Linked DNA regions of Homo sapiens. The protein of the gene in region 4 binds, or shares a complex with, the protein of the main gene of each other region. Each region holds a gene or a part of one and is shown on either strand. Other genes may lie near its edges. The genes, in order: MED18, MED26, MED23 and CCNC.

Region 1 (4,460 bases), on a different chromosome or scaffold from region 4:
GAGGCAGGAGAATCACTTGGACCTGGGAGGTGGAGGTTGCAGTGAGCTGAGATCATCGCAGTACTGCACTCCAGCCTGGGCAACAAGAGCGAAACTCTGTCTCAAAAAAAAAAAAAAATTTTTTTTAACAAAAGGGGAGTGTAGACAAATGTCCTGGAAAGATGTTAATGATAGATGAATGGGAAAAAAGGGTTATAAACCAGTATATATGGAATCTTTTTATAAAATAAACACATTTCATATACATAAATTTATAAAAAAATAAAGACTAGATGGATATATACCAAAATAGAACTAGTACTTCTCTTTGGATAATAGGTGTTATTTTCTATCTGTACTATATTTTAAAAGTTTTCAACAATAAATATGCTACTTTTATGAAAGGTGAAAACTCTCATCCTCATCTCTGCCACAATTAAAACTAGGAACTGTCATTTTTTTTGCTTCAACTGGTAATGAATCTACCCCAAATTTACAGGGTAAGGGAATAAAGAATCAGAATTACACAGACATGTCTCTTCATTGGCTTTATTACCATGTAACACAAGCTCACAGCCTCTAATGTTACCAACCTTATACACAAATGGCCAAACAAGAAATTGTCCTTTCCAAAAGATAATTTATTCTGGTTTCCCCTCTTCATTTTTATTTTTTTTTGAGACGGAGTTTCGCTCTTCTCACCCAGGCTGGAGTGCAATGGCGTCATCTCTGGTCACTGCAACCTTCACCTCCTGGGTTCAAGCGATTCTCCAGCCTCAGCCTCCCAAGTAGCTGGGATTACAAGCGCCTGCTACCATGCCCGGCTAAATTTTGTATTTTTCGTAGAGATGGGGTTTCACCATTTGGCCAGGCTGGTCTCAAACTCCTGACCTTGGGTGATCCACCTACCTCAGCCTCCCAAAGTGCTGGGATTAGAGGTGTGAGCCACTGCGCTTGGCCCGGTTTCCCCTCTTAATACAGTGGGATTAGATAGATTCTCCGTGACATCCTGAGCCTTTAATATAGAAAGGCTGTCATGAAAGTGAAATCGCCACATGAGGAGAACAGTGCAAAGAACCAATTAATTCTCACCATCCTCTCCCTGAAGGAAGAATGCCTGCCTGGCAATGGTGAAATGGGACATTTAAAACATATTTTTTTGGCCAGGCGTGGTGGCTCATGCCTGTAATCCCAGCACTTTGGGAGGCCAAGGTGGGTGGATCACGAGGTCAGGAGTTCGAGAATAGCCTGACCAACATGGTGAATCCCCATTTCTACTAAAAATACAAAAATTAGCTGAGCATGGTGGCATGTGCCTGTAATCCCAGCTACTCAGGAGGCTGAGGTGGGAGAATTGCTTGAACCCAGGAGGCAGAGGTTGCAGTGAGCCGAGATCGTGCCACTGCACTCCAGCCTGGGAAACAAAGCGAGACTCTGTCTCAAAAACAAAACAAAACAAAAACCAAAAAAAGCAAACATATTTTTTCAAACAAGTAAGGATAGGCCCCAAATGTGGACAGATCCTCTTAGTCACATGAGCCTCTTGGGGTCTATTTTCTCTAGGTGAACCAGAGGTTTTAGCTGTTCTGCGAAGTTCTTCATGTCATCAGAGACCATGTCCTGCCCAGCGGGTGCTACCACACTTAATTCCACGAGATAGGAGAGTGACAAGGCCTCAGTGCTGTCTGTGTTCCCTGGCACCAGGATGCGGAAAATCTTGTACACCATAATCTTCATGATGCCCTTACGGAACAAATGTCCCTTAGCAACAAACTCATGGTCCATGCGGAAGCCCATTTCCATCAAGAAGTCGGTGAGGTTCTCAGATGTGGCAATGTCCACGCAGTTTCGCACCAGGGCATGGCGGTTCTTGTCTCCCATTTCTGGCTGTCCCAGGTAGCGCAGATGCCAGGGTGCCCCTGCCCTGTCCATAGAGCGTCGGGCCCTGAGAACAAATGGGCTGGCTTGCTGGCCCTTAAGGAGGAATACCATCTCATGGTCAAGGAAAGTCTCAGGTTCCATGTTGTCACACAAACCACGAAGGCGGTGGATGAGGCTTTCCAAACTGTGATCTAAAACACTTCCTGAAAACGGAAAAAGCACCACTGAGTCCTGTCTTTCATTTTAGGTCATGGAGTTAGTATACAATTGAAAAAACTTAAATGAAAAACCAAAACAGTTTAGTGAAGCATTTCATAAAACATACAGCCAAACATGAGATTTTACAGAAATTACACTACCAAGGTATTGTATAACGTTGTGAGAAAGTTATTTTCCTTTTCAATTTTTTTGGAATTTTCTTATTTAGCACTACAAAGTCTTTAGGCCTCTTCTAATGCTCATCTCCAGCAGGCCTGGGGCTTAGAGCCTTTAATCAGCGACAGTGTCTATCTAGAATGTAATAATACTGTTTTAGTTATGTATTTATTTATTTTTGTAGAGTTGGGGTCTTACTATGTTGCCCAGGGTGGTCTTGAACTCCTGGCCTTGGTCTCCCAAAGTGTTGGGATTACAGGCACAAGCCACCATGCCCAGCCAATAACACTATTTTGTTGTTATATATTTTAACAATTGCCTTCTATTTCCAACAAATCAAAGTCTTCCATTTATAGAAGAAATATAAAGTCTCCCCCGCTTTTTTTGAGACGGAGTCTAGCTCTGTCTTCAGGCTGGAGTGCAGTGGTGCGATCTCAGCTCACTGCAACCTCCACCTCCTGGGTTCAAGCGATTCTCCTGCCTCAGCCTCCTGAGTAACTGGGACTACAGGCGTGTGCCACCACGCCCAGCTAATTGTTGTATTTTTAGTAGAGACAGGGTTTCACCATGTTGGCCAGGATGGTCTCGATCTCTTGACCTCGTGATCCGCCTGCCTCAGCCTCCCAAAGTGCTGAGATTACAGGCATGGAGCCACTGCACCTGGCTAAAGTTTCCTTTTTATCAGGAAAAGTTTTCCTCTTCTGTATGTAAGTAGAAGAGAGTGAATTGCTTCATAGAATCTTCATCCTCTTGGCAACATCTGACATAATTGTTACAGTAGATTATACCCACTATGAAATCTATTCTTCCCTTGGCCTCTGAGACACAACTTTCTTGTCTTCACTTAACTTGCTGACCATTCCGTTTAAGTCTTCTTTGCTTGGTCTCTCTCATCTTCCCCAAACACTGGAGGACTAGGACTCAATCCTGGTCCTCTTCTGTATCAATACTCTTTTCCTGCCTAGGTGACTTTATTTGGTCCCATGGCTTTAAATATCATTTAGGCCCTGAGGACTCCCACGTTTTTATCTCTGAACTACAGATGAAAACATCCAACTTCCTACTCAGTTTCCTCACTTGGATGCCTAACAGACATCTTTATCTTAACATGTTCAATATCAAACTGTTGATTTTTTCCTCCAAAATCTTATTCACCCTACAGTCTTCAACATCACAGTAAATGGCAACTCTCTGTTTTTAGTTGGTTACCCAGGCCAAAAACCAGAAAATCATCTTTGACTCACACCCTCTTTCTTTCTCTCATACCCTCCATTGAATCCGTATTTTTGAAATAAATGCAGAATGCAATCACTTCTCACTCATCTGGTCACTTCAACCTAGTCCCTTCAAATGAAGTCACCCTCATTTCTTGCCTGGTCTTTGCAATCGCCTCTTTCTACCTTTGCCTTCTTCCTCTCTTCTCCATATGAAAGCCAAATGGTCTATTAAATTATTGGGCAGATAATAACACTCCTCTACTCAGGACACTACAGTGGCTTCCTGTGTCATTCAGAATAAAAGCCAACATCTTTACCGTTGTCAACAAGGCCCTACATATTATGGTCTCTGCTACCTGCCAAACATCATCTCCTTCTATTCCTCCCCTTGATCATTCTCTCCAGGAGTGACCTTCCTGCCACACCCCTTCTCCTATTCTCTGTGCTTAGGATGTTCTTCCCATCTGCATGTCTACTCTATCACTTTTGTCAGGTCTCTGCTCAAGTGACTTTATCATCAAGGCCTTTTCTGATCACCCTAATAAAATAGTATGTGTCCTACCAATCTCTAGCCACTTTCCTGCTTTATTTTTATGGCATAGTTTTGTTTTTTTTTTTTAGGTAGGGTCTCACTCTGTCTCCAGGCTATAGAGCAGTGGCGTGATTATAACTCTTTGCAGCCTCCATCCCCTGGGCTCAAGTGATCCTCCCGCCTCAGCCTCCCAAGTGGTTCAGACTACAGGTGCGCACCACCATGCCCAGCTAATTTTTTTTTTTAGTAGAGATGAGTTCTTGCTATGTTGTCCAGACTAATCCTGAATTCCCGAACTCAAGCAGTACTGCAGCCTTAGCCTCCCAAACAACTGGAATTACAGGCATAAGCCTGTAACAGCTGGCTTGACATACATTTTTTTAGTCATCTTTCTGCCTCCATGGCTATGGCTCAAATGTTAGGAACATATTCAGATACTTGTTTACAAAATCTGGCTGGGCGCGGTGGCTCACGCC
Region 2 (7,034 bases), on a different chromosome or scaffold from region 4:
CCAGGGAGGTCCGTGGGCGGGCTTTGAGGCACCAGCACATGCAGCTGCCTGGCCCCTTGCCGGGTGCTCTCCTCCTGCTTCAGGTACTCAGACATGAAGTGGTGAGCCCCTGGGGTCTGCGCGCCCGATGATGAGAGCAGGCTGCTCTGCCGGCTCAGGTAGGACTGGATGATCTCGTTGCGTGACAGCTCCTTCCAGTTCGTCTGTTCGAAGGGGCTCTGGAGGCTGGCCTTGGCCTCCTGCTTGTCCAGCTCTGTCCTGGACTGCTGCTCCATGTGCACAGGGCTGTCTGCCCGCACTGGCTCTTTCTGGGTCAGAGGTTTGATCTGTCTCGTCATGGGGTCAAAGGTGAGCTTCCGCTCTTTTAACCGGACAGGCTTGACGCCCGCCTCAGCCACCTGCCCGTCCAAGTTAACCGTATAGTCTCGAGGTCGGTACCTCTTCTTCTTTTTACTGTCCGAGCCCCCTGAGGAGGCAGCATCACTGTCCGCCTTGGAGGAGTCTGGGGAAAAGCCTGCCCGGGACAGGAGGGGCTCGGCTGGGGACAGCCCTGCCTTGCAGCCCGGCCCCGCCAGCCGCTGGTGGCTCTCAGGCTGCTCAAGCCAGCACACTGGGCTTTCCGCACTGGGCAGCAGCTCGAGCCGCCGTACGGGGGGTGTGGACGGCTGTGCCAGTGGAAGCGGTGACGGCACCTGTGTGGCATCGAGTGCCTGGGGCCGCGGTGAGGGGCTGGGCACGGAGCCCTTGGGTGCATACAAGCTCTGCTGCCGGGCAAAGGAGCCCTCATGCCGTGAGTTCCGAGGACTGAAAGAGCAGCGAGGGGGTCCCTTGGGATGGGGAGGCCCCGGAGTCTCGTCCACCCTGTCCAGCTGCTGCAGCACCGAAGCCTTTGGCTGCAAGCAGGGTCCAGGGGGCTTGCCCAGGCCCGGGGAGCTGGTGTGCGGTCGCACGGCGTTGACGGGGATCTTGCCACTGTGCTTGTCATTCTCGTCACGCTCCAGGCGGCTGCCCTCTGGGCCTGCATGCCCACTGCCATCCAGGGAGCTGGCGAAGCTCTCTGGACTCCCACTGATCCCGTTGGTGGGGAGGGGGGATGAGTTGGGGACCAGGGGGTCGTGGCTAGCTTTGGAGACCTTGGGTGGCGGCCCTGGGTGGCCGAGGTCACGCTGGTCACCCCGGCGCTTGCGGCTGCCCAGCCTGTCCAGCCGCTGCCCGGGCAGCCTCTGGAGGTCATTGCGGCTCTTCAGGTCATGGATGCTCCTGGGTGGGCCAGCCGCCCCCACCTCCGGCCGGCAGTTGTGTGCGCCCCCGTTGGCAGAGCCGGTGGCCCCCGCCAGCCCCCGCAGCGCCGCCTCATGCTGGTGTGCCGGCTCGATGAGCTTCTGCCAGCTCCGCAGCAGCTTCTTGGCCCGCTTGGCGAGCTCCTCGTTCTTGGTTTTCTTGCGGACGTCGTTGATGAGCTTCCCAAGTCGTGTTTCCTACAACCAGAGGGAGATGATGACATACTTTCGGGACAGGAACTTCTCCATGAGCTGAGCCAGAAATGGTGGGAAGTGGCCCTGACAGTGAAATGACCCGGTTCCCACTGAGCCCTAAACTGCCAGCTTCCCTGACACAAAACTTCTGGGGATTTCCGGTCCTTTGTGACAATATAAATTCTCAAACCTAGTTCCCAGACCTTCAGGGTCCCAGGTGGCTTCTCAGCAGTGCTGTCACCCAGGCTCCTGGTGTCAGGGGGCTGTGGACCATCAAGGCCACTGTAAGGACACTGCCAGAGAGGCTTCCTGGGTGAGAGGGTGCTGTGGCCGAGGCGACAGCACAGAGGGTCCGCTTCAAGTGGAGGGTTGGGGATGGTGCCTCTCACTGGAGCCTCCTCCAAGCACACCTCTCCTGATGTCCCCACGTGCCCACGAAGTGTGCTGGGCATGTAGGATGGGAGTAACACCACTTGGTCTCTGCAGTGCCCGTGGGAGAGCAAGATCGCGAGGCACGAGCTGTGAGGGCACACCGCCTCTCTTGGTCCTCCGAAGCAAAGACACTGATGCTCCCAGAAGCTGCGGAAGGACCTGGTTGGTACCATCCCCTGCCCCCCGTTCTGCCCTCCCAAATGCTGGGGTCTGGGATACTCACCTCAAGTGCCTCTTTGGTAATAGGGTATTTCTCCAGGCTGGAGATGACTTCCAGCACCGCCACCATGTTCCGGATCTGTGGAAATAAAAAGCCATTTGTCAGGTCCCTGTCCTTCTCCACTGGGAGGCTGGAACACCCTGCCCCAGCCTGCTCCAGTCTCTCCCCAACCCCAGAGCAAGAGGAGCCAGCAGCACTGAAGCCCCCACTCCATGTCGTCTCCTACCTGCTCCCTGGGCCAACCTGGCACCCAGTGCTCATCCTCACCTGCCGTCTGACCTCCTCCAGTGTGTGGTGTGCGGGCTGCCCCAAGCCCTCCAGTGTACATGGTACATACCCACCCACCTGCTGAAACCCAGGATGCCTGTGGAACAAGAGCTGCTCCTGATACTTAAGATGACCTCTACTCTGCCATCTGATGGGAGTGGGAGAGGAGACACGGAAGAATTCATCGAATAAAATCCACAAAGCTTAAAAGATCAATACACAGGCCAGGCGCGGTGGCTGACACCTGTAATCCCAGCACTTTGGGAGGCTGACGAAGGCGGATCAGAAGGTCAGGAGTTTGAGACCAGCCTGGCCAACACAGTGAAACCCCATCTCTATTAAAAATACAAAAATTAGTTGGGTGTGCTGGCATGCGCCTGTAGTTCCAGCTACTTGGGAGGCTGAGGCACGAGAACCACTTGAACCCGGGAGGCGGAGGGTGTAGTGAGCTGAGACCACACCACTGCACTCCAGCCTGGGTGACAGAGCAAGACTCCGTGTAAAAAATAATAATAATAATAATAATGATAAACCAGTCAATCTGAATCCAAAGACACCATAAAGAGAGCAGAAAGTCACAAAGTGGGAGAAGGCATAGGCCACAGGCCCCCAAGGAGCTGTATCTGGAACACAGAATGCCTGTACAGCAGTACAGCTGACCAGGAGCCCGGCGTAGACTGGCCACAAGACAGGAACAGGCACACGGCAATGAAATGTCAGTGCTGATGCTCAGCCTCTCAGCTTTATCGATAATCAGGAAAACTCAAACTGAACCCACAAATGGATACATGATACACGTGCCCCACTGACAACACTAGGTACTTCGGGGGATACAGCTGACTTTGGGGACTGCTGGGCTTTGTCTGGCAGAGTGAAGCATGAACACATCCCATGACCAAGTAATCCCTCCCTTTTAGGATCTTGCTAGGAGCCACACCTTGTTCTAAGCACTTCCCACACATTACTGACTCCCTTAATTGTTACAACAAGAATTCCTACCACTCAACCACCACCTCCAGCAACTACAGGTTTCTGGTGGGCTGGCTAGCGGGTGGGAGCCCAGGGGCCCTGAGGAAACCACAGTGAGTAGATTACTCAACTCCCCCCCACCCCAACATGATAAAGGAGTTAAGCGGGCACATGATACAAATTAAAACAGCATAAAAGGGCACACAAGGAAATGGGCATCTCTGACCCAGCCACTGTAGCATTTCCTTGCATTTTTTTCCAAAAATATCCCTTGTGTATATAGGCGTATACATCCACACTTATCACATATTTCAAAACCAAACTGACAGTGGTTCTTGCCTTTTCTGACTTAATGTCAGCAATGTCCAGCCTCAAACAGAGCCCCTCATTTGGCTCACCATCCCTTCCAGAGTGGGGAAGGCCCGACTTGAATGCTGTGGGACACTTAGGCACTTTCCGTCCGCCATTACAAAATAAGGCTGCAACCGACGGCAGTGACAGACCTGACTCTGAGCTAGTGCACAGACAGCCATGGAGGAGCTGGGGCTCCACATCCATGCAGGGTGGTCACCTCACCCCCAGGGAGGCTGCTCTATTCCATTCCCACCAGGCCACATCCTTGCCAAGACTGCGTGGCAAGAGTTTCCGTAACACATGATTGTAAACTTAGCATCTTACACAGCACACATTTATCATCTTAGGCTCTAGGGCTCAGAAATCAGGTCTGAGTCTCACTGGGCTGGGATCCTCTCTAGAGGATCCATTTCCTGCTCCTTCAGGTGTTAGCAGAGTTCAGCTCTTATTTTGTTTTTTTTTTTGAGATGAAGTTTCACTCTTGTCGCCCAGGCTGGAGTGCAATGGCACGATCTCGGCTCACTGCAACCTCCGTCTCCTGGGTTCAAGCAATTCTCCTGCCTCAGCCTCCCGAGTAGCTGAGATTATAGGCACCCGCCACCACGCCCAGCTAATTTTTGTATTTTTTTTTAGTAGGGACAGGGTTTCACCATGTTGAAGGCTGGTCTTGAACTCCTGACCTCAGGTGATCTGCCCTCCTCGGCCTCCCAAAGTGCTGGGATTACAAGCGTGAGCCACTGCACCCGGCCCAGAGTTCAGCTCTTTACACTACAGGAATGAGGCCCATTTTCTTGCTGGTTGTCATCCGAAGCCATTCCCAGCTTCTGGAGGGCACTGCATCCAGCTCACACCCCCTCCCCTTATGCTCAAAGCCAGCTACAGGCTGAGTCCTCACCCGGCATCTCTCTGACCCAGCCAGGATAGGTGCCATCTCTAAGGACTCCCTGACTAGGCAGGGCCTGCCCAGATGATCTCGGATCACCTCCCCATCTCCAGGCTGTTCCCTTAGTCACATCTGTCATGTACGGTACCATGTGCCCAGGCTCCAGGACTAGAATGTGGACGTCCTTGAGGGCTGTTAATTCTGCTGGCCTCATGGATTCTGGCTTTTCTACTCTTCTGCCCCACTTCCAGTGGGAGGCAGCCACTGCCACTCCCTCCCTTCCCGTGTTGTCTCCTCTGGGTGTAAAGTTGCAGAGCCACGACAGCAGTCCCCGCAGAACTCCCACAAAGCTGCCCTGCCAATGGGCCCATTTGCTCTTTGGCAACAACGGCCTTGCCTTGCAATGTTCTCCATTCAGGGCTCCAAATGACCCTGAAAACCCTGCTTCAAGCTGTGTCATGGTGGGGGTGGACGGGTGATATGAGGGGAGATACAGTCCTGTCCGCACTCCTCGTGCAATGGGCAGGGATCAGTGCAGGGGAAGACTGTGCGATGAGGAGGCCAGTCCCAGACAGACAGCAAGGCCAACCACTCCCTGCCCCAGGCACTCCAGCACCGACTCAGTCCCTGGGCTTGCCACATGGCTTCACCTCCACCCTGCTGACCTCACCCTGGTATATTTGGAGCCCTGGTTCCCCACATACTCCTGAAGCAGCAGTCCTTGCAGAGCAGAACACTGCCCAGACCCAGCTAGCCTGGTGGCACAAAGTGTCCTTGTCCTTGGGCAGACACCATCCTGCTGCCAGACAAGAGGGAGGAGACAGAACACCTGGGCAACCCCAGGGTCTGGTACTGAGCTGGTGCCCCAGAAATCACCGCTGAACTAACAGCCAGTCCCAAGAGTCTCCTGGAAACTGTGTGGGAGCTGGGGACACCAGGCGAAGGTGTGAGGGCCCTGTGACTGTGTATCCTTACCCTTGGCCCCTCCCCTGCCTTATGAGCCACGCTTAAGCGTGTGCAGAGAGGCCTTCAGCCTCTAGGAGCCCCAAGGGAAATGCTACAGCCTTGGCAGTCCCCTTTCTGTCCCCACCGTGTGAGCTGCTCACCTGAGGAGTAGAGGAGCCCGCCTGCTCTACCTGTAAGGTGCTAGAAACCCACAGTCCTACGCCGTAAACAGATGAACTCTGCCAACACCTGAAGGGGCAGAAAATGGATCCTCCAGAGAGGAGCGCAGCTCGCTGCTTCCTGGATCCCAGCCCGGTGAGACTGGAGCTGACTTCTGAGCCCTAGAGCCTGAGATGATAAATGTGTGTTGTGTAAGACACAGAGAGAGGGTGAGTGTCCAGTGCGGCCACTCCCTGGAGCCAGCAGAAGGCAGTCAGTGATGTCAGCAGAGCTAAGGATGGGGGCAAGGTGAGACTGCCCTGCCCTGCGACCTCTGGGGCATTGATGTCAAGCAGTCTGAACACTGTGTGGGGAGCACCACCTGGGCATCCAGACACAGGCCTCCCAGGCCCAGGAGGCAGACACTGAGCAATGCAGCGAGGAATCCCTGCAAAGGGCCTGGCCCCGACCCCAGGCACACTGAGCCAGAAGGCTCCACAGAGCCTCTTTATAGATGGCCACAGTCTGTCCCAAAGAACACTTAGCACCCAATTGGTGCTGGTCCCATAGGAGCAAAATAGGAGCTGGCTTCTGACCCTGGCCCTGGGGACCCTGCCTTAACAACCAACTGACCCCCCACCCAGGAGTGGCAGGTCTCCCACTCTCATGGAGGTGGCCCTCTGTGAGTGACAGAGACACCAGGACTCGTATGTGGCTGAGGGGAGGCTCCCGCTCTGACTCCAGGCCTGCTAAGTCCAGCATGAACCCTCAGGGCAGGGAGGCAGGCCACAGGGGGAGGGCAGCACCTAAGGTGGCCTCCCAGGGAGGTCAAAAAAGGATGTGGCAGAACGAGCTGTGTCCACCTGGGCTGGAGACCGACTTCCATGCTGGAAAGCAGAAAAGAGCTGGAGAAGGATGGGCAGGGAGCTGGCCAGACAGCACCAAAGCCCTGCGGCAGGGGAGAGGCCATGGGTAAGGACACCGGGAGGAAAAACAGACCCAAAAGACCCAAGGTGGCTCCTTCACAACCTGTCTTCTATCCCCCTTAGCGACTGCCCCCACAGACCACCTGCCCTTGCCCTGTTTCTGGGATGCCCTTGGCACCTGTCCATCTATCTGGGGAAGTACACTAGATCCTAATCTCAGCACAGACACAGTTTGACTCCACATGGGGAGCCGCTCCAGGCGATGGCCTCAAAAGATGGCTTTAAGGCAGCTCTTCAGGCTTGCCAGGGCCATGTCTGTGGCCCGATGGCCAATTGCAGCCTCTTGCTGTCAGGAATAGCCTGGCACATCTGAGGCCCCCTCCTCCTTTGGATTCTCCCTTGGG
Region 3 (7,034 bases), about 32 Mb from region 4:
AATGGTTGTGACCTGCAGTTTCAATAACACTGGTAAAGAAACTTAAATAGATACTTCAGAATTTAATCATGTCACAGGAAACCCAGATTATATTTTACCTCTATCATACAACGAGTTCTCTCTTGCTGAAATCTTTGTAAAAATGGTCCAACAAGATGGTATACATAAAGCAACTGGAATTCGGTCTTCACTATAGGAAGAAGTACTTCAGTAAGAAACCTAAAATTTGAAGATAAAAATCTCCTGTGACTTGAAATTATTTAAATTGTTTGAATTTTGTTCATACAGTATATACAAAGTATTACAATAAAATATAATTTTTTAAAGTTCCTTTTAATTTGGTAACAATAATATTTCTAATTAATCTCACATCTCTCACTGGCTATTACTTTCACTTGATTATTTTTATTTATTTATTTTTTTGAGACGGAGTCTCACACTGTTGCCTGGGCTGGAGTGCAGTGGCGTGATCTTGGCTCACTGCAACCTCCGCCTCCTGGGTTCAAGTGATTCTCCTGCTGACTAGCTGGGATTACAGGTGCACACCACCACGCCTGGCTAATTCTTTTATTTTTAGTAGAGACGGGGTTTCACCATGTTGGCCAGGATGGTCTCAATCTCCTGACCTTGTGATCCACCCATCTCGGCCTCCCAAATTGCTGGGATTACAGGCATGAGTCACCGCGCCCAGCCGCAAGTTGTTCTAATGAATGAAGTATATACCTCATCTGTTAATGAGATTAGAACAAAATGAAATACAATTTTTTTTTTTTTTTCAGATGGAGTCTCACTCTGTCACCAGGCTGGAGTGCAGTGGCGCGATCTTGGTTCACTGCAATTTCCAGCTCCCTGGTTCAAGTGATTCTCCTGCCTTAGCCTCCCGAGTAGCTGGGGTTACAGGCACACACCACATGCCCAGCTAATTTTTGTATTTTTAGTAGAGATGGGGTTTCACAATGTTGGCCAGGATGGTCTCAATCGCCTGACCTTGTGATCTGCCCACCTCGGCCTCCCAAAGTGCTGGGATTACAGGCATGAACCACCGCACCCAGCCTACGTCAAATTTCTTTAAGAAATTATTATACTTACTTTGGAATGAGAGAAAGTTGTCCGATGCTAGAATGGTGCCACACAGCATGTGCAAGAGCTAACGTATAGCTACAACTCATCTCAGAGTAGGACTGATGACAGGCAGTGAAATCAAAGAGGCGGAATGGATAGCCAACCCACTCTGTTTCAGACGTCAAGCTGGGGCTGCTGATGACACTCACAATTCGATCATGAAGAACAATCCAATATGGCTCCTTTAAAATCGGAGGAAAGCTAGTGAAAAATATCACTTATCCAGCATTCCACCCCAAAGTCTAAAGTAATAGTGTTTTCTCATTCTTTAAAGTTTTCTATTTTTCCAGCTTCTGCACAATACAGCTGGGTGGCTTTGTAACTGGTCAAATTAAGTCAGTAACAACCTGGGAGAAGTAACTGTGAGTTAAGGGGCTCCATACATGTATCTGTCCAGCTCATTTAGGTACCTGATATACACTATGCAGTAAATCAATTAATTTATCAAACAATAAATCTATAGCTTTATTACTTATTTAAAAATAATAAACTTTAAAAAAATATGTGTGGAGGTCAGAGAAAGGAGTCTTCATGTGAGCTGGAAAAGTCAGGGAAGGCTTCATTCACTGAGAAAGGAGGCTCTAAGCTAGCAAAGAATGAATAGGCTTTAGAGAAGGTGATGGAAAGAAGAAGCTTCTGGAATAAGAAAAATGTCTTATTCCCTCACATTCAGAAGTACCTAAAACATGTCTTAAGCACTATCTGAAGGAACAAAGGCTGTAGATATACAACACGTTAAGTGGCCAAGAGTAGATCAAGCTATTATGTAAAAACTAAAGTTGGATAGGTAAGGTGGTACCAGAAAATGCAGAGACCCGTAAGTCACATAGATATATTTAGATCTAATACAGAAAAGCAAAAACTAGTCACTGTAGATTTTTAAAGCAGTAATAATATGAAAAAACTTTAAAAACATAAAATACTTCATTAATTTGCATGACGTCCCGTACAAGGGCATCCTATATGCATCTTTTTCTTTTTGCTGACATGGAACAGCTGGCTGTATTTCATCACTAAGTACAAATCACAATTATTAACTCACTGGTAGGGCAGTGATGATCAAACCAATTGCATTCATCCATGCTGTAATGTTCTCTCTTGGCACTAAAGGCTGACTGCAACCGGCAAAAAAGAATGTAAGTATGAATTTATAAAAACATTTTAGATGGCTGACAACGGATCTTATTTTTAAAGAATATGTCTAATTCAGAGGATCGACAACTAATCCATTTCAATAAAACAATGGGGAATTTTTTATTGAATAAAAATGTAATATGCATAAAAACTCAAGAAGGCTTTTTAAAAATACTTCCTCCCCAATCATTATCCCATACTTCATGCTAATTTTTAAAAGAATCTTGAAATCTTGAAAACAAGATGAAGAGAATCTTGTTTTAAGTGACAAGTTAACATTATTCCTATATTAAATGTCAAACTGCTATTAATGAGTAGAAGTAGGAACAAACCCGGATCTTAGGATCCTGTCCAGGGCTCATTCCATAACTCCTATATCACAAAGACAAGATCTGGAACCAGAAAACAGTCATCATCCAATGTGCATCAGCCTTGCGGCAACAGGTTTGTCTTAAAAGTTTGAAATAGAATACCATTCTATTTACAAATAAACAACAAATCTTACTGCATGAACCAGAATACATACCTTTTTAGGACAACATTTAGAAGGGCATTCCCAACTTCTTTGCCTGAAACTGCCAAGGCCATGAGCTCCACACAAGTAACATGGAGAGCATGGGCAGCTGGGTTGGGAAACTCATTGAATCTCCAGTCACAGTTTGGAAAGGGACCAGGAGATTTGCCAGCCATCGGTGCACACAGTTAAAGCAATAACAATTGGACTATCTCATCTGATTGTCAATTTATCTGATTATGAGCTGCCAAGAAGTGATTTGTCTACGCTTAGAGAGATTAAGAGGCAAATGCAAACCAAATACAAATGAGTTTGACATGATTGAAATGTATTAAAAGCAACCATTTGATTAACCACAGGTATAAATGGTTGGTCTTTCAGGTGGGTTCTTATAAATATGACATATAATAGCCACAGATGCAACCAAGGTTTACCTAGGTTTCATGAGCCTATTTCTTTTAATAGTTATAAGACATTAATATGAAAATTATTTTCTAATGAGTCATTCTTTTGCTTCAGAAAATAAATTCCTTTGTGTAGGAAAATAAGTCATGCTCATTTATGTAGAATTTCTTACCTAGTAAAATAGTGGTATGGTTATAGACATTAAGTATAGAGTGCTAATAACTGAAAATATAAAATCAAAATGAAGAAATAAACATCCAAGTATATTTTCACTAAAATATACCTTTTCAATAAAGAAAAATATATTTTATCATTTATTATTTACTACAAACATTAATTTTTTTAAAGTAACAAGATCCTACGTTCTCCAGTAGCACACAGATGCATGTGCTACAAAATATAGTATGTAAGAATAAGATTTTTTCTTTGAAACAAATCTCCATAAAGTCTATTTTTAAATATAATTTTTTTACCGCTTATCCTCAAGTTCTAAAATAAAAATTTTAACAGAATTTCAGCCTAATTGGCATGATGCTGTTAATTTAAGATTTCAAATCTTTACAGAGATGAAAATGGAAGTGATCTTAAAAAAAATTAAAACCTTGAAATACATAAAAAATTACTTTAAAAGAAAAAATATATTCTCATAAATCAAAATACTGTTATTTCTGGGAGTCTAAAATCACAATAAAAAGGATATTATCGACTAGTCTGCCAATCAATCTGCAATAGTAGGTGTCATCTGGAACCCAAGGATTTTCCTCTCGTGCATTCATAGCGCATTTCAGGTAAGTGTCACTTAGACACCAGCCCTGCGGTCGATTATCCTTCAGAGAGCCAATGATCGCATGGACGAGTTTTCGTTTGAGAAATGCGCGGTCTCTCAGGTGCATTTCATAATAGTGCAGAGTGTTATACAGATAAGTCACTGGACGATCTGCCAAGAAAAAAACATACCACCACAATGTTTAACTGGTTACTAATAACTGTGAAAAACTGATCAACTGCTTTCCAGATAACTGAAAAACAGCTCAGAAGATTTATGAAACAACTTCACATGCTGGGCAATTGTATACTATGAATATTTTAATCTGAGGAGAGGCAGAAGGCTCAGAATGTTTCTAGTAATATACAGTTTGTATTTATATTTGTTTTTATTTAAGTGGAAGCAATTCCATTTCTGAAAATTTATCCTGCATAAATTTTAATCCCTTGACATACAACAAGGGATGTCATTGCAGCCCTGTTTATACTAGCGAAAGATGAAAAACAGCCTAAAAGGTCAAAAACAGGGGACTGATAAAGTAAATCTGGCATGTATGAGGCAGCTCTTTACGTACTAATACAAATGACCAACCCTAATACATGATAAAGTTGAAACAAACAGGGTACAGAACACTTGTGTTAAAACAAACAAACAAACAAACAAACAAACAAACAAAACCAGCCAGGATATCTAAGAGGGGATGGCAAGAGACTGGTAACACTGGCTGCCTACGAAAGAAACTGGGTAGCTGGAGGCCAGGATGGGACTAATTACCTTTCACTGTATACTCCACCCCATCAAGTATGTATATTACCTAATCCAAAAGAAAAATGTTTTTAAAAGAACGCTCACTTGAACTTTATGCCTATTCTACCATGTTAACACACAATTCATACTTCTGCTCTGAGGGAAGGTATCTTAAAGATGAAGCAGGACTGCCTGCCAGACAAACACTTTGTTCCCAGAGTGGCTGCTCCAGGACCTTCACATTTCTGTCACTGACCCTGCCACTCTCCAGTAACTATGCTTAAAATTTTAGTTGTCTTTTTCTTTCAATATTCTCCTTATAACCAGCCAATCAAGTCCTGTTCCTTCTTTTGTGACCATTTGTCCCTTTTCTCTCATTTTCAATGCAACCACTGTTGCTTAGATACTAATCACACAACTGAGCTTTTTGACATGTCCTTGTAATGGCTTCATCCTAAGACTGCTGCCAACTATAACTGGATGTATCTTTCTGAAATAATGTTTCCTATGCCATGATCATACTCAATAACTTCCAGTTGATTATTATCTGCAATTACAAAATCAGCCTAGCATTCAAGGTGATCTACAGTTAGGTACAATCTGTCTTTCCAATCTTATTTCTAGAACTCTCTGGTAAGAATTTTCAATTCAACCCAATGTAGCAATTTTTCTTCAAATATACTTTATCTCCTCCATGATTTCCCCCAAATGATCCCTTCTGCCTCGTGTGCTATATTTTCCCTGCTGCTGCTATAAATTGGATGCATCAAGTCCAAATCCTACCCATCCAAGAAGGCCGCCAAGATCTGTTTAGTTTACAGTAACATCACCCTGTTCTGAACTCATACTTTTGTTTATATTTTTATGTTGTATATTTTATACTTCATGGCACCATCCATAGTACTTATCCTCAAAACACTTCATTTTTAAAATATTTAAAATAAAACCTTTAGAGCCACTATTACCATGTGGTCCTGCCCATCCTACTTTTGATAATGGAGGTATTAGACGAAATTAAAATTGGAAAAAGCTCACCATGAAATTTATATAAGCCTCCTAGATGATCCAGTAGAGTCTCCAGTGATTTGGATACCGGAAGCAACTCTAAAAATCTGTGGATTACTATATCAAATACTGGAAGGAATCGAAGACACACATTCCCAAAATAGATGGGCAGATAGGGAGACTGGATCTGTACAGGAGGATCCACCTGTTCCGCGAGGCCCTCAAAATACAACTTCTCTGGATATTTCTGTGGAATTGAGAAGATGATAAATGGTTAGAGCATTTTTTAAAAAATTCTCTTAAAAGAGCTAAATGTGAAAACATTGTTTAGATTTTTTTTTGCAAGGAAACATTTAAAATTATACTTGATTATACTTTACTTCTTTTTATAGAAGTCCTTATGTCCACTAAAACTGCAGTTTCAATTTATTCTCAACATTATAGAAACTCTCAAACCTTGAAGAAGTTCAGAGAGCTAACTTACTTCTATATAGACAAGAGAAAAAACATTAGAACCAGAGAGAAAACGGCCAAATCACTTCATCAAATACTCAAGTATGGCTTTAAAAGGACTATTTGAAATACCAATTAGGACTAGTACCTTGTGATAATTCATGTGCTTGGTGTGCCAGTCATTCTGTAACCAGTGCTCTGGGGAATTTTCCTTCACAAAGTCACTTACTCGATTTCTAAAATCGTTTGGTTTGAGTAACAGCAACTGAATTATGAAATAACAAACCTGGGCTTCATTTCCTTCGTGACTACGCATGGCCTTTGAAAAACAACAGAAAAATTATATGAAAATGTTCAACCTGTGTAAAATCATGAGGGCCATCTGAAAGCCTAGATTTTAACAAAGTAAAATCTCACTATTATAATTTCCTTAGACGTCTAGTCTATCCCAAACCAACTGTTCAGTATTCCCCAAACATATATGACCTTTCTTGCCTATTTCTGGCTTACCATTCCTTCTGCCTGGGATGTCCATCTTTACTTTTAAAAATTTAATCTATCTTTCACAGCTATCACCTAAGCAGATAAGATTTCTCACTGTTTCCTAGAAATATTTTTTCTACACCTCCATCTTATCCTGACATCTTATTGATTTATAGACTTACATTATTCCCCCTAAAATATAATAACTACTTTTATATCTATGCTCCACAGCTAAGGGGTTAACGTTAAACTATGCCACTCCAAATGTCACCGCCATAGAATTTTTTTCAATGTAGCATTTTCCAGCCTACTTCAATATCTTTTTAAAGAAATCTACCCGAAGGCCAGGCGCGGTGGCTCACACTTGTAATCCCAGAACTTTCGGAGGCCGAGGCGGGCAGAACA
Region 4 (7,034 bases):
GGGTCACTTAAAAACCAAAATTCTTTATCTTTACAATATCAGATCATTCATTGAAATTTTTGAAAATTGCTACTGAAATTTATAAAACAGGACAATAGCCAGCAGTGAAAAAAAAAAAAAAAAAAGATGGCACAGAATCAAACTGACATGAAACTACTATAGTTCTGAATTCTGCCCTGAATTTCAGATGAACTTACCTAATTCTGTCAGCTTTAAATTTATGGTATATGACCATATGTTGAGAGATACCTGTAATATACCTCCACTGCATTAGGAAAAGTTACTAATCAGATTAGTGATTTTTTTAAATGAGACATTCTCAATCAAATCACAAATTTAAAAAATAAAATTAACATGGATCATGAAGTTTTGGAAGAAATGTTTTAAAAACTACAAAACAACATAATCTAAGAAAAATATAGTAAGTATGATATATGATTAAATGACATCAATAATTAAAGTCTACAAAGTACCTGTTTGGAGGTGGTTTTGGTTTTGGCATCTTACTAAGAATGGTTGCCATCTCTTTTCTCTCATCGAAATTCTTCCACTGCTCATATAGTTTTAAAATAACCCTGATTATTTCCAAAATCTAGAAGAAAATATTTGAAAAGTTCTCAGTGGCAAAAACAAGCAACATTTTTTATATAAAGAGCATACATCACTACACAACCCTCAGAAAACAGTAAATAGTCTCTGTCCTTAAATCCTGATAAATTTGAAAGCAGTATTTTTCACCACAGTGCTGTTTAGGATTTTCCTTCTAGCATCTCATTTTTCAGCATGTGTGCATTGTCCATTCTTATCTATCTCTGCAGCTGATTTCCTTCCATCTGATGGTATCTTTTAAACTGAAACATACTAAGAATAAAGGTTCTAATCATGAGGGAATATACCACTATAGAGCACACTCCTCTAGTATAAATTATTTTAAACAACTTAATCGGGGGTAGTGCACAAAAGATGTTTTGATTCTCTGTTACTACACATACATTAAGGTGCTCAAAAACTGGCAGCTACAAATTTGAAACAACTAGTTAACAAATTAGCTATTTTTTTCCCACCTGAGTAGAACCTAACCTTAGGATTAATTTTAATGCATTTAACACTTGAGCAGAAAAGCTAGAAACACAGCAAAAGCCATTCTGCCAGGAGATAGGCTATGTTACAGAAGTTCACAGTAGTATTCAGTGGTTACCAGGGAGCTTTTAAAATAATCCTGGGAATGAGAGGCTACTTTGCAACCAATTAAACCAAAAGTTTACCATTCTGTTTAATCCTAAACTGAAAAGAGATACATAACTTAAATAATCAGCATTAACTCTTCCTACCAAACTTTTTTTTTTTTTAAACGGAGTCTCGCTCTGTTGCCCAGGCTCGCGTGCAGTGGCACGATCTTGGCTCACTGCAACCTCTGCCTCCCAGGTTCAAGCAATTCTGTCTCAGCCTCCCGAGTAGCTGGGAGTACAGGTGCATGCCACCACACCCAGCTAATTTTTGTATTTTCAGTAGAGACGGGGTTTCACCATATTGGTCAGGCTGGTCTTGAACTCCTGACCTCAGGTGATCCGCCCACCTAGGCCTCCCAAAGTGCTGGGATTACAGACACAAACCACCATGCCCAGCCCATGTTTCTTAATATTTTGTAACCAATAATCTTCTTAGCCTGGTGGACATCACAAGATTTTAGGCTCATGATAAGTAAATATGACATTAATTTTTAAACATCCAAGTTTACATACAACTAAGGGAATACCTTTTCCATATCCACAGAAAGCTCAGCAAACCATTGCCTGGCATCTTTCTGCTGTACAACACAGGCTACATGTAGGCAAGCTGAAATGAAAATGAGAGACAACTGTCCATGTTTAACTGCAAACACAGAATATATGATCTAACAAAGATTTTTCACTATTTCCTGTGTATTTTCCAACACTCTTTAAAAAACATTAAACAGCTACATATGAGAGTTACCACTGACCATCTCATCAATGTAATCCGAGACAGAAAAAATTACTAGATTACATCAAGTTCTTGACATCTGGTCCTCACTGCGTGCTAGTCATGGTGCAGTTGCCTTGAGAGTCAGGCACGTTAAAGAGGAAAAACATCCAATGAGGAGAGCAGAAAAGGGAAGTTATCCCTGAGTAGTGTACAAAGTAGCCGTTAAACTGCACCCAGAAGTCAGTGTGACAAAACAAAACAAACAAAAATGTTAATTAATATACTAGGTTTTAACAATGTTGACTGTGTTTCCACATTTCAGTTAAAAGCAGTGTTGCCTGGCCTTTTTTCTTCCTTTTCATTATTAGCACATGATCAAGTTATGTGAAAGCTGGGCACATCCTTACAGAATTCAGTGTTGTAATCAAATAAAGGTTAGAAAATAAATGTAATATACTGTATACAATATTAGTTATATATGTTATATACAATATAAACTAACAAAAGAGAGGAATCTACATCATAATTTTGCCTAAAACAATTTCTACTGAGCAGCCTGTATACCCTTAACCCACTCCAGCTTAAGTTATACTCCGTGGTCTGGTTATCCATGTCTTTGCTAAGGATGACATTCTAGGCAAATAGCAACTCAAATGTGAACTGACACACTGGTTGCCCTAAGTCAAGCAAAGCTATGAGTAGGGCTTAGGTCAAGAAGAGGTTAAAAAAAACCAAATGACTGACATGATAAAAACAGGAAATTAAAATACAGTGGACAATGCTATTAACATGGGCATGCATAGAGTACACTGAAGATTGAGGAAGCATCCTAAACCCAGACTGAGGTGATGCTGAAAGGGTGGGGGAGGGTCACTGAAGAGCTGATATCTAAGCCAAGTCTTACAAAAAAAAAAAATGAGAGTGGGAGAAGAGAATAGTATGTATATCAATTGGGAGACGAATTTGGCTAGCTCCGGGTTTCTCAATCTTGGCACTACTGACATCTTAGGTTGAACAATTCTTTGACACTGTCTTGAATACTACAAGATGCTTGGCAGCATCCCTGGCTTCTACCCACTAGATGCTAGTAGCACCCTACCCTAGTTATGACAACTAAAACCAAACATTGCCAAATGTCCCCTCGGGGCAAAATTATCCCCAGGTGAAACCACTAGCCTAGCTCAACAGTTTGGAAGATAGACAGGCTCTCTGAGGATGGGAGTGCTGGAGGCTAATAAGCCAGTTAGGAGACTGCTGTGGTAACATGGATAGAAATGAGAAGATGACTATGAGATTACAGAAGGAACAATCGAGAGGAAGGCACAAAATGTACTGGTAAACAACTACATGTGGGTATTGAGGGAGATGAAAGGGCCTAACTGCTGGGTTTCCAACTAAGGTATATAACTAGTGCTATTCACCAAACTGGCAAAGACATTAAAAGGAGGAACATATTTTGGGGCAAAGTGATAAGCTCAATCCTCATCATGAGTCTGAGGTGCTGGTGGGATGCCAAGCGGAGCTATGTAAAAGGAAGATGGATATAAAGAACTGCCAAGTGGCAAGATCTTGGCTAAATAAAGAGATTTAAATGTTTCGGCATGTAAGTGATAGTAGAAGCCATGAATCTCAGTTAAAGTACCCAAGAAGAAGACAGCAGGGATGGCAAAGATGTGACACATGTTCTGTTATCCCTTCCTTCCTACCTATGCAGATCCCAGTATTCCTACCCACTGGGTAGGACACCACTCAAAATCCTTTCAAATCCAGTCCTTTCAGGGAACTGCCAGTAATACAGAAGTGTAAGTATAACCTATTTGTCAGCCCTGATGTAAGAAGGCCAAGAAACATCAACATTTAAGGAATAATTGAACAACTGAACAAAGACAAACCAATGGAAAATAAGAGGGGAAAATCAAGAGGATGGAGTTATAAAAATCAATAGAAGGGGCTGGGGTGCAGTGGCTCACGCCTGTAATCCCAGCACTCTGAGAGGCCAAGGAGGGTGGATCACCTGAGGTCAGGAGTTCAAGACCAGCCTGGCCAACATGGCGAAACCCTGTCTCTACTAAAAATACAAAAATTAGCCAGGTATGGTGGTGGACACCTATAATCCTCCTGTAGGCAGGAGAATCGCTTGAACCCAGGAGGCAGAGGTTGCAGTGAGCCAAGATCACACCACTGCACTCCAGCCTGGGAGACAGAGTGAGACTCCATCTCAAAAAAAAAAAAAAAAAAAAATCAATAGAAGGAAAAGGAACAAAAATTAACAAGTGCCCAATATATAACAGGCATTATTTGGTGCTCTACAACCTATCTCATTTAATTCTTCAAACGGCTCAGTGGAATTATTAGTATTCTCTCCATTTTACAATTAAGGAAACAAACACGGAAAGGTCAGATAATTTTCCCACAATTGTAAAGGAGGTAAAGTTTAAGCCTAGGACTATCTGACTCCACCCATTACAGCACTGCTTTCCACAGACTGTAGAATGAATGTACTTAACGTCTTCCTCCAGCCAAGCATTATGGACCACAGATGCTCCTTTACTCAACCTCTGAGTATTTGTTTGGGCTCAGGATATGAAAGCCCCAATTATTTTACATGCTACAACTAATATTAGCTGGCTTAATTCTGAACTTTTCCCTCTAAACAAACAAATATGTTCTATTCAGACACCGATTAAAACTATTTTGAATGGTTTCAAAAAAAAAAAAAAAAAACTTACCAAAAAGGGGGTGGGGGAATAATAATCCTGATTTATGACAGTTGCAGTTCATATTATTGAAAGCTCACATGCAAGGATTAGTCTATTACTTCATGGAACATAAAAACATAAAGTACAATAGGGTGAAATTTAGTTTAGGATGACCTAAATAAGTTTATAACAATTTAACTCATAAAGGCACACCATGCTTACATACCTAAAGCTATCATGAAAGGAGGATACAGTAGGCAAAGATCCGTTCTGTAGGTATCATTCACTATCCTCCTATAGAAATGTAAATCATATTATTACTGAAAGCAGAACTACCTCATCTGATTGTATATTTCCTCCAGAGAGGGCCAGATTTCCCATCTTTGCACACATTTATTTCCTTTTATACTACTGAAGCACAGCTATAAAAGTGAAAACATCAAGGCAAAAGGATGGATACATGAATGTGACAACAAATAAGCACATATCAATGAATAAAATTACAGCTAAATATATTTTAAATTTCAAAATCTCATAACAAATTATAAACACATTTTTCTAATTTTTTAAAAATCAGAAAAATCAAATTAAAAAACCAGAAATTATACAGTAAATTTATATGTATGTTGCAGACTACCAAAAAGTATTCTGATTACTTTAAAGATAACTTCAGTCTTAATTTTTATGTTAACAGTCTGTGTTTTGTATAAAATTAAATTTTAATAGGTATATTTATGGAACAGATAATTTAGGATTGTTTTCATTTTGGCATTTACACCACTATAGTTATTAAAATTCAACAAGTGGTATTTTGCTCAACATAAAATATCTTGGGGCAATAGTTTAATGACTTTAAAAATACTTAACTTCATATTTAATTGTCAACCTTCCTATCTAATAACATGTTACACTATTAATAACTTCTGTTCTAATTACCATGCAAGGGGAAGCAACATGTCTTCTTGGCCCATGTCCTGCACATACTGGAGCAAAGGTCTATAAGGATGATACACTATCAAGCAACAATCCTAGAAACAGTTTAAAAAATGTGTATGTATAAAAAACAGATTTATTACAACACAAAAATGTTATCATTACCCAACTGATTTGTAATTGTGTATTTCAAAGTGAATTTCACTAACTCATGCTTGCTTCCCTTTTATTCTCTTAAGCTAGCAGTATGACAGCCCTAAACTCTACCGTAATAGTGAAGGCAGTGCTCTCTCTGGAATATACCTTGATAAATCGGTTGGCAGTCAGTCAGCATCCATTCATTCCCTTAGAGACTCAAAGTGTCACATCTGCAACACACTGAAACCTCTTATTAGCCTATAAATTCATAATTCCCAACTGGAGGAGCAGAATTCTGCCAAAGACATAATCTATCTTTAAATAACACTGCACGCACACACAAATTGTGCACATAATTTATGGTGGTTTAATGTCCTGACTTGTCTGTTTGTAATCCTTTCATTATAGTTACTTACTATAGAACAGAAAAATTTTCCCATCCTAAGTAGGATATACAAATTATTTTACAGGCTTCAGAGAGACTCTAGGTGCTAATATAAATAGGCTACCATGATTTCACCATCACATATTAGGTGGATGGTTTTAAAATGTACCTCTCTAAAATCATTTCTTTAAATAATTTCCAACTTCATTTAATTTAAAAATGTTTTAATCTATTAATCACAGAAGATTTACTTACCATTAGTTCTAACAGATAGAATTCACATTCTAATATCTGTTTAAAACAAAGATTATCAATGAAATGTCAATATGAAACCAAATTAGATAAGTCCACTTAATCTAACATAAATTACAGACATTATAGTAATTTATCAAAAATTTTTACTAAAAAGTTTTAAAAATCCAGACAATAAACATAGTTTATATTAAAATAAATATCTGCAATAAAAAATTACTATTAGAAATGCAATTATGATTATAAGGATTTTAATCCTTGTAAGGAAAAGCCAGCTTCTCACAATCATTCTTATTACTCACTTTTATTTAAAATATCCTGTAAAACCATCAGATTTTCCAGTATACTTTCTACTCAGCAAATGCAAAAATACAATTATTTCTACTTAATTTAAAAAATGTAACTTAAAGAGAATAAACAAATCCCTTGCAAGGTGGAAAAAGGACATACCTATTAAAATGTCAATAGAAATTCACCTTATATTTCATATTGTTCCATTAGTTTTTAATCCCAGCTAAATAGTAGTATCACCTGGGACCTTTTACACAGTACCAATGTTGGGAGCCCCAAGGCTGAAAATTCTGATTTTGTTGTTCTGGAAAGGATCCAACATCAGTATTATTTACAAGTTCCCAAGGTGATTTAATGAGCAGCCAGGGTTGATAATCGCCACTATGAAGTAT

The links.
Region 1: CCNC (region 4) and MED18 share a complex: the UniProt entries of both Homo sapiens proteins name them as parts of the mediator complex.
Region 2: CCNC (region 4) and MED26 share a complex: the UniProt entries of both Homo sapiens proteins name them as parts of the mediator complex.
Region 3: CCNC (region 4) and MED23 share a complex: the UniProt entries of both Homo sapiens proteins name them as parts of the mediator complex.

What each region holds. Positions count from the first base shown.
Region 1 is NC_000001.11:28,332,020-28,336,479, reverse strand, and holds the end of MED18 (mediator of RNA polymerase II transcription subunit 18), read right to left. Parts: intron 2,064-4,460; coding exon 1,510-2,063; 3' UTR 515-1,509; downstream 1-514. UniProt on the Homo sapiens protein: Component of the Mediator complex, a coactivator involved in the regulated transcription of nearly all RNA polymerase II-dependent genes.
Region 2 is NC_000019.10:16,576,205-16,583,238, forward strand, and holds part of MED26 (mediator of RNA polymerase II transcription subunit 26), read right to left. Parts: intron 2,611-7,034; exon of another isoform or gene 2,206-2,610; coding exon 2,131-2,205; intron 2,070-2,130; exon of another isoform or gene 1,962-2,069; intron 1,479-1,961; coding exon 1-1,478. UniProt on the Homo sapiens protein: Component of the Mediator complex, a coactivator involved in the regulated transcription of nearly all RNA polymerase II-dependent genes.
Region 3 is NC_000006.12:131,590,224-131,597,257, forward strand, and holds part of MED23 (mediator of RNA polymerase II transcription subunit 23), read right to left. Parts: intron 6,466-7,034; coding exon 6,295-6,465; intron 5,941-6,294; coding exon 5,724-5,940; intron 4,113-5,723; coding exon 3,876-4,112; intron 2,949-3,875; coding exon 2,783-2,948; intron 2,238-2,782; coding exon 2,165-2,237; intron 1,305-2,164; coding exon 1,090-1,304; intron 220-1,089; coding exon 99-219; intron 1-98. UniProt on the Homo sapiens protein: Required for transcriptional activation subsequent to the assembly of the pre-initiation complex. Component of the Mediator complex, a coactivator involved in the regulated transcription of nearly all RNA polymerase II-dependent genes.
Region 4 is NC_000006.12:99,544,639-99,551,672, forward strand, and holds part of CCNC (cyclin-C), read right to left. Parts: exon of another isoform or gene 6,391-7,034; coding exon 6,355-6,390; exon of another isoform or gene 5,955-6,354; coding exon of another isoform or gene 5,931-5,954; exon of another isoform or gene 5,672-5,930; coding exon 5,580-5,671; intron 4,938-5,579; coding exon 4,870-4,937; intron 4,762-4,869; coding exon of another isoform or gene 4,751-4,761; exon of another isoform or gene 4,674-4,750; intron 3,747-4,673; exon of another isoform or gene 3,659-3,746; intron 1,837-3,658; coding exon 1,757-1,836; intron 593-1,756; coding exon 474-592; intron 1-473. UniProt on the Homo sapiens protein: Component of the Mediator complex, a coactivator involved in regulated gene transcription of nearly all RNA polymerase II-dependent genes.